Linked DNA regions of Homo sapiens: region 1 is linked to region 2. The links come from fine-mapping of genetic effects on gene expression. A gene starts in region 2. The other region holds a variant in brackets. All regions are shown on one strand. Distances are from middle to middle. Region 1 overlaps INTS4 (integrator complex subunit 4). Region 2 holds the start of INTS4 (integrator complex subunit 4).

Evidence for each region. PIP is the estimated chance that this variant, and not a neighbour inherited with it, causes the effect.
Region 1: its variant is the best candidate, but not a certain one, in a credible set for the expression of INTS4 in monocytes (TOPMed, PIP 0.59).

The regions. Positions count from the first base shown.
Region 1 is chr11:77,954,481-77,958,877 of GRCh38, forward strand. It overlaps INTS4 (integrator complex subunit 4), which reads right to left. Exons shown (of 23, transcript NM_033547.4): 7 at 4,266-4,354; 8 at 1,462-1,582. Among named protein-coding and RNA genes, the nearest start is that of INTS4, 38 kb to the right of the region's middle. The variant C/G (reference allele first, on the strand shown) is at 1,914.
Region 2 is chr11:77,992,235-77,996,631 of GRCh38, forward strand. It overlaps INTS4 (integrator complex subunit 4), which reads right to left and starts at 2,434. Exons shown (of 23, transcript NM_033547.4): 1 at 2,356-2,434. The coding sequence starts at 2,409. RefSeq lists an enhancer at 2,349-2,548 and a silencer at 2,749-2,818.

The sequences.
Region 1 (4,397 bases), 38 kb before region 2:
GTAAAGAGAAAATGAGAAAATATATGTAAGGGGCCTCCTTCAAATTATCTAAGATAGTGGTCCCCCACCTTTTTGGCATCCGGGTTCAGTTTCATGGAAGAAACCAGAAAGAGTGGTGAAGCAGGGTAATTTTAGGATGAAACTGTTCCACCTCAGATCATCAGGAATTAGACTCTCACAAGGAGGATGAAACCTAGATCCCGCACATGCTCAGTTCACAATAGGGTTCACACTCCTATGATAATCTAATGCAGCTGCTGATCTGACAGCAGGCAGAGCTCAGGCAGTAATACTTGCTCATCTACCACTCACCTCCTGTTGTGTGGCCTGGTTCCTAACAAGCCATGGACCAGGACTGGTCCACAGCCTGGGGGTTTGAGCCTCCTGAACTAGGACATAACAAGTGCTTAATAAATGGGAAAAACTTTTTTTTTATTGTTTTCCTTTTTCTCTAGGCTCCGGCTATCTTAATTCCTAGTAGGGTTAATAGAATTATGTTTTAAGATTCTTTCTAGTTCTAAAAGGCTATTTCTCTACAGGAGAGTGAACTATTTCTTTCTATATTAAGAAATTCTGGGGCTGGGAGTAGTGGCTTAAACCTGTAATCCCAACAATTTGGGAGGCCAAGGCAGAAGGATCACTTGAGCCTAGGAATTCAAGACCAGCCTGGGCACAAAGCAAGACCCCATGTCTACAAAAAATACAAATTAGCTAGGCAGGGTGGCACATGCCTGTAGTCCCAGCTACTCAGGAGGCTGAGGTGGAAGGATTGCTTGAGCCCGGCAGGTCAAGGCTGCAGTGAGCCGTGACTGCACTATTGCACTCCTGCCTGAGCAACAGAGGAAGACCCTGTCTCAAGAAAAGAAAAAGGAAAATAAATTCTGGGGTTTTAAATTCAGGTCACACTGCCCCATCTGTAGTTTCTCAAAATGTCTGTAAAAACTTAATGAGAAATGTGCTCATTTAAAAAAAGGATTATTGGCTGGGTGTAGTGGCTCACATCTATAATCCCAGCCTTTTTTTTTTTTTTTTGAGATGAGAGTCTCCCCCTTGTCGCCAGGCTGGAGTGCAGCAGCGTGATCTTGGCTCACTGCAACTTCTGCCTCCCAGGTTCAAGCGATTCTCCTGCCTCAGCCTCCCGAGTAGCTGGGATTACAGGCGTGCGCCACCATGCCCAGCTAATTTTTGTATTTTTAGTAGAGACGGGATTTCACCATGTTGGCCAGGATGGTCTCAATCTCCTGACCTCGTGATCCGCCTGCCTTGGCCTCCCAAAGTGCTGGAATTACAGGTGTGAGTCACCGCACCCAGCCTATAATCCCAGTCTTTTGGGAGGCTGAGGCAGGAGGACTGCTTGAGGCCAAGAGTTTGAGACCAACCTGGGCCACACAGTCCTCATTTCTACAGAAAAGAAAATAAATATATACATGCATACATACATACATAAAAAGTATAACTTACCAACAGTTTTGCTGCCTGAACACGAACCACCCAAGAGCCATCACTGACCATGTGACAAATTTTGCCAAACGCATCATCAACTAAGCGTATTTCTTCATTAGAAGAAGGAATTGGGACAATGCTAAATTAAAAGAAAAGAAATGAAATCACTTAGAACAAAACATGAACCTAAGTCTGCAGGCTCAGGCCAGGCACAGTGGCTCACATCTATAATCCCAACACTTTGGGAGGCCCAGGCAGGTAGATTGCTTGAGCCCAAGAGTTCAAGACCAACCTGAGCAATATGGCAAAACCTCATCTCTACAAAAAAAATACAAAAATTAGCTAGGCGTGGTGGCATGCGCTGATAGTCCCAGCTACTTGGGAGGCTGAAGTGGGAAGATTACTTTAGCTCTGGAGGTGAAGGTTGCAGTGAGCTGAGATCACACCACGGCACTCCAGCCTGGATGACA[C/G]AGCAAGACCCTGTCTTGAAAAATAAATACAGTCTGGGCGCAATGGCTCACGCCTGTAATGCCAGCACTTTGGGAGGCTGAGGCAGGTGGATAACTTGAGGTCAAGAGTTCGAGACCAGCCTGGCCAACATGGCGAAACCTCCTCTCTACTAAAAATATAAAAATTAGCCAGGCATGGTGACACATGTCTGCAATTCCAGCTACTCAGGAGGCTGAGGCAGGAGAATCGCTTGAACCTGGAATGTGGAGGTTGCAGTGATCCAAGATAGTGCCACTACACTCCAGCCTGGGCAACAGAGCGAGACTCCATCTCAAAAAATAATAATAATAATAATAATAATAATAATAATAATAATAATAATAATAAACAAATAAATACATAAGTAAGTAAGGCTGCAGGCTCAATAAACTGAGAACAGTCAATGAAGACTGACACACACAAAAATGATAATTGAATAGTTCAAATCCTAGAATGATTAAATACAGTTTGGAATAAACAAATCACTCTGGGAGTACAAACCAACTCTTTCAGTTGCATTGCAAATTATGCTTTTTTTTGAGACAGGGTCTCACTTCTGTCGCCCAGGCTGGAGTGCAGTGGCGTGAGCACTGCTCACCACAGTGTCAACTTCCTGGGCTCAGGTGATCCTCCCAGTTCACCCTCCTGAGTAGCCGGGACTACAAAAGCATGCCACCACACCCAGCTAATTTTTTATATTTTTAGTAGAGATGGTTCACCATGTTGCCCAGGCTGATCTCAAACTCCTGAGATCAAGCAATCCACCCGCCTCAGCCTCCCAAAGTGCTAGGATTACAGGGCTGAGTCACTGCAACCAGGTGCAAATTTTCAATGTATTGAATAAAAGTGTGTAACCCACCAAAGGTTCAGCCAGGCGTGTAATCCCAGCACACTGAGATACTGAGGCGGGCAGATTACCTGAAGCCAGGGGTTCAAGACCAGCCTACCCAACATGGCAAAACCTCATCTCTACTAAAAGTACAAAAAATGAGCTGGGTGTGGTGGTGCGCGACTGTAATTCCAGCTACTTGGGAGGCTCAGGCATGAGAATTGCTTCAACCCAGGAGTTGGAGGTTGTAGTAAGCCGAGATCACATCACTGCACTGCAGCCTGGGCCACAGAGCAAGACCCTGCCTTAAAAAAAAAAGTACGTAACCCACCAAAGGTTCAAAGATTTATGAAATTATCAAAAACTAGCTTCCACCGAATATTTCATATCCTTAAGTTTATTATCTTCTGTAACTGAACTTCTTTTTTTTTTTTTTTTTTTTTGAGAGAAAGTGTCTTGCTCTGTGACCCAGGCTGGAGTGCAGTGGTGTGATCTCAGCTCACCACAATCTCCACTTCCCAGGTTCAAGCGATTCTCCTGCCTCAGCCTCCCTAGTAGCTGGGATTACAGGCGTGTGCCACCATGTCCGGCTAATTTTTGTATTTTTAGTAGAGACGAGGTTTCACCATGTTGACCAAGCTGGTCTTGAACTCCTGACCTGAGGTGATCCGCCCACCTCGGCCTCCGAAAGTGCTGGGATTACAGGCACCACCGTGTCCAGACTGAACTTCTATAAATACAGTAAATCTCAGAATAAATCAATATAAAACTTACTTATCAATCCAGTCCTAAAAGAAGACACAATTTCCAGTTAGCCCTTTTCTTTGTATGTGTCTAAGTCCTAAAACACTACAAATGGAGCCTACTCCTACAGGTTTATTAATTCATTCTGGTTTTCAAATTCTGGCAGTTTAATGAACAGGAAAAAACACCCCTTTTTCCTATACAAGGAAAAATAAAATATTCTATAAATATTTATAAATAAAAGATAAATAAACATTTATAAATATAATATTCTATCTTACAAAATATAATAAATAATATTGCCTACCTCCTCAAAGAATCACTGTGGTTAATTTAATTGCTGTGAAAATATTTTTAACCAGGAAAACTACATAAGAGATCATTATTCTCAAACTCATCTGGTATCTTTATCTGGCATTTGGCACAAGCCAAACTAAAATGGGTCCCAAACAATTTTAAAGATTTTTTTGTAAAGTACTGAAAACCATTTAAGAAAGATATTCCAATTTCTTCACTTATGGATGAGAAGGTTAGGATAAAAGAAGTGAAGTATCTTTCCAAAGTGTACAGAAAGTTCCTATCAGAGATGAAAAATGAGGACCAGGCAATCTGATTTTCAGGGCCTGTGCTTTTCCCTTATTCCCCATTGCCTTCCAAAAATGTAACCAACATTTCTTTTCTAGAAGTGGGCTTTTTGCATGGTGAGAGGAGAGGAAAACGGCTTCACAATCAACAAAAGCCAGCTTACACCCACACTGACCTTTCAGGATAGAGCTGACTGACGACCCAGATAAGCTGGACTGCAGCACTGCGCACTTGTTCATAGTCATCAGAGAGTAATTTACAGGCCTGCAAAGAAGAATTCCAAAAGTCTATTAGTTCTGTGTCCTCT
Region 2 (4,397 bases):
TAAAAACACAAAAATTAGCTGGGGGTGGTGGTGTATGCCTGCAGTCCCAGCTATGCAGGAGGCTGAGGATTGCGTGAACCCAGGAGGCAGAAGTTGCAGTGAGCTAGGATTGCGCAACTGCACACCAGTTTGGGCGAAAAGAGCGAAACTCCATCTCAAAACAGAAGAAAAGGAAACAAATATCCGATGGGCGTAGTGGCTTACACCTGAAATCCTAGCACTTTGGGAGGCTGAGGCAGGAGGATCCCTTGAGCCCAGGAGTTCGAGACCAGCCTGGGCAACATGGTGAAATCCTGTCTCTGTTAAAAAATAATAATAAAATAAAATAAATTTCCTTACCACCTAATGGTGCGTTTTTATGTACTGAGCAATCACCTCCTTACAAATTCACATTTCTATAGAAAAGAGAGTAGAATTATTCTAGACAAGAACACAGTATGACATGATAAAAAGAATAAGGACTTTGGAGTCAGAGGAATTTGTATTCAATTACAACTTACTAGCTGGGGAAGGCCTTCTTCTATAGGAGGGCATACCAATACTTTATTATCACAGAGCTAGTCGATAAATCTGTTATTAAACATAACTTTATTATACGTATATGTAAGTGCTAGGCACATATCAGTTCTCCCTCCTCATCTTTTCAGCGGAGAAAAAAGAACAGAAGCACTAAGATCTCATTTAATCACTTTATGTTAACAACTGATGAAAAATTAAGTGAAGAAATTAGCTCTTCCCTTAAAATTCTTAGCCATTTCTATCCTAGTCCTCTCAAACTCAGTTTTCAGTCTTATCGAAGCTGTAGTTAGGTCAAAAGCTAGGAATTTTTTCCCTAAGTATTATATAAGGGAGAGGACAAGCAATATCAACTGTCATTCAACCACCAATAACACTTTAGTGAGCCAGGCCCTATTGTCCATCTCCAGGACACGGAGATGAGCCAGGCATTAGCTCTGCCATCAAGGACCTCCGACTGGTGGGAAGATAGGTACACCGGTAATGACAGCAGCACTGAACAAAAAGTACAAATAGATTAGTACCACAGAATGCTACAGAAACAGGTGAAGAAGAGACTAAGCTCTCGCTGAGGTTTCATTTGGGTCTTGAAGCACAAATGTTAAGTCCACTGGGTGGAGAACAAAAAGAAAGGGAAGAATGGCATGTATTCTGTGAGAAGAGACAACCAGTGCAAGAGTTTTGAGATATGCAAACACAAGAACACATGGCATATCTGGTCATGTGAGGATGGGTGGAAGAGGGCTGAGCAGTCTTGGGAAATGGGAACAACAGAATGTTGGGAAGAGAGGAAATCACATTGTGCAACAGTGCTAATGTTCTTAATGCCACTGAACTTTATACTTAAAATTGTTAAAATTGTAAATTTTATATTATGTATTGACATATTTTGTATTTGTATTAACATATTTTAATGCTGGATGAATGAATCCATGTAATGTTTAAGGATCAGTATCCTGCTGGATGCTCTAAGCCTTGCCACTCTACAAGTCTAAGGATCTAAGAATGCAACCAATGCACTGGTGTAAATTTGGGGGCATGTCAGGAATGCAGAATCTTGCCTCACCTCCTCTGCTTGACTTATCAAATAGAATCGACATTTGAACAACGTCCCCAGGTAATTTGTATACACATTAATATCTGAGAAATAGGACATCAGGATGATTTAGGATCAACCCTAGCAACATCTACGTGGAGACACATGGAGCATCACTGACTCCCGACAGGGACTCTGCCCACCTGTCACAACTTCATGGTGAGGAAGGTACTGCCCTCCTTCCTAGGTGAGCTGTTCTACCAATAGAGAGCTCTTCCCCTATGAAGTCTGTGACCCCCGCCTGCTTAGACTGCGCCTGAAGGAATTCTATAGACCCTTCTTTCAGCCCCTTAGAACCTTGTGTATATTCCAACTGGTCCCTGGGAGGTTTTTTTTTGGAACGGGGGTGCGGGGAGGCTAGAAGGGGCTCTGCTGCTAACTGGCTGTATCCTCGTACCCCTCCGGAAGGCTCAATGTCCACATCTGGAAAACGAGGATGCTAATGTAACGCGATGGAGCAAAGTTGTGTGAGAGAATAAAATGAAATAACGGATAAGACAGTTTCGTAAATTAAAAAACACTGTTTCTCCTAATAATTTTTTTAAAATCCTGTCAGACTTCACATATTAATGACAACAGCGGCTGCAAACTAACACGCCCACTAACTTGCAATATCAGAGATTATCAACAAGTCAGCACTTAACACGGGCGTATGGAGCCTCTTCTGTTCCGGCAAAGTGCCTGGGATTTGGATAATCTACCCTGGTCCGGATCGGTTCTGGATCTTTCCCGCCAGAGCTTACCTGAACCACTTTCGTGAATTCCTCATAAACCCGCTTCTTAAGGTGCGCCGCCATGCCTACCCGCGGGCCCTCTCAGCTTCCGTACACTAGGAGGGAGGCGGGGGTGGACGGATCCGGAAAACTTGCGTAGGCGCGGGGGGTGGGTGGATGACTTGCCGAGATCCCACAAGGCAGTGGGATTTGGGGAAAGAGCGACCGCTTCCTGTTGCTCGACTGCCTCGCCACTGTACGGACTGATTTGGCGGCCTACGCCGGAAGAACGGAAATAAGAGCTTCGCTTGTGGGAGGCGGGGCCTCTGGCGGGAGGAGCTGAGACTGAAAGGGTGGGCAACCCAATGGGAGCTTTGGGAGGCTGGTTGGTGGCCTCGGAGTGGCTAAGAGACTAGCGCGGCGCGGCGCGAAGGGAGGGAGGGAGGAAGTACAGGTTAAAGGGCAGAGGCGGGGTGCTCCAGAGCTAGAGGCAAAACCCGGAGCTCTGTAAGGGGTTTACGACTCGTGAAAAAACTCAGAGGCTCGGCTGACTTTCCCATCATCCTTTGCTGTACACGATGCTGTTTGTAGGTTTCCTGAGCACTGCCTTTGTTCAAGCTGTGCGCCACCTCTCTTGTTTTGGGGTGCCTTTCCATACTTCCTTATTCCAGTTTTGCAAAAGCTGCCATCCTTTAAGGCATCAATCCCTGCTCTGATAGCTATAGTACAGTAGAAGACTTCTGAGACCAAGGATAAAGCAACAAAGCTACAGACTACAGCTCTGGTTCTTGAGCAAATGGCTCAACTACAAATGCATTTATAATAACTAACCTGACAAAGATGTGACAATGGAGTGAAATAATGCAGGAACATTTTACGGACTGTAAGGTGTAGTGCACATGTTAGTGTCAGTAAATCCAAGGTCAAGTTTTACAACCTACATGAAACTAGCTGTTCATTATTTTGGTCTTTCAAAAGAATGTGGGCCAGGCGCGGTGGCTCATGCCTGTAATCCCAATACTTTGGCAGGCCGAGGCGGATGGATCACTTGAGGTCAGGAGTTCGAGACCAGCCTGGCCAACATGGGGAAACCCCGTCTCTACTAAAAATACAAAAATTAGTCGGGGCATGGTGGCACACGCCTGTAATCCCAGTTTCTTGGGAGGTTGAGGCAGAAGAATCACTTGAACATGGGAAGCGGAGGTTGCAGTGAGCCGAGATCGCGCCACTGCACTCCAGCCTGGGCGACTGAGCGAGACTCCGTTATCAAAAAAAAAAAAAAAGAATTAATGTGGGATAGTTTAAAAAAAAAAAAGCAGGAGGCTGAGGTGGATACAGAGGACCCAAAAATAAACAAAAGATAGTATTTATCCTCAAGGTCCTACAATCTGAGAAGACAGACACCCAAACTGATGGTGACAGTGCAACTGAAATGTGCTGGGTAACGGGAATGAATGTGGTTCAAACAGACCTAATTTCTTCAGAGTGCCTCAGGGAAGGCTTTCCTAAAATTAGAGGAAACTGGGAGTGGTGGCTCACGCCTATAATCCCAGCACTTTGAGAGGCCGAGGCGGGCAGATCACCTAGTTCAGAAGTTTTGAGACCAGCCTGGGCAACATGGCGAAATCTACTTTAAAAATACAAAATTTAGCTGGGCATGATGGTGGCCCACGCCTGAAGTCCCAGCTACTCTGGAGGCTGAGGCGGGAAAATCGCTTGGGCCTGGGATGTGGAGGTTGCAGTGAGCCGAGATCCAGCCACTGCACTCCAGCCTGGGCAACGGAGTGAGACCCTGTCTCCAAAAAAAAAAAAAAAAAAAAAAAAGGCTGGGCGCGGTGGCTCACCCCTATAATCCCAACACTTTGGGAGGCCGAGGCAGGCGGATCACCTGAGGTCGGGAGTTCGAGACCAGCCTGGCCAACATGGTGAAACCCCGTCTCTCCTAAAAATACAAAAACTAGCCGGGCGTCGGGGTGGGTGACTGTAATCCTAGCTACACGGGAGGCTGAAGCAGGAGAATCGTTTGAACCCAGGTGGCAGCGGCTGCAGTGCGCCGAGATCGGGCCTCTGTA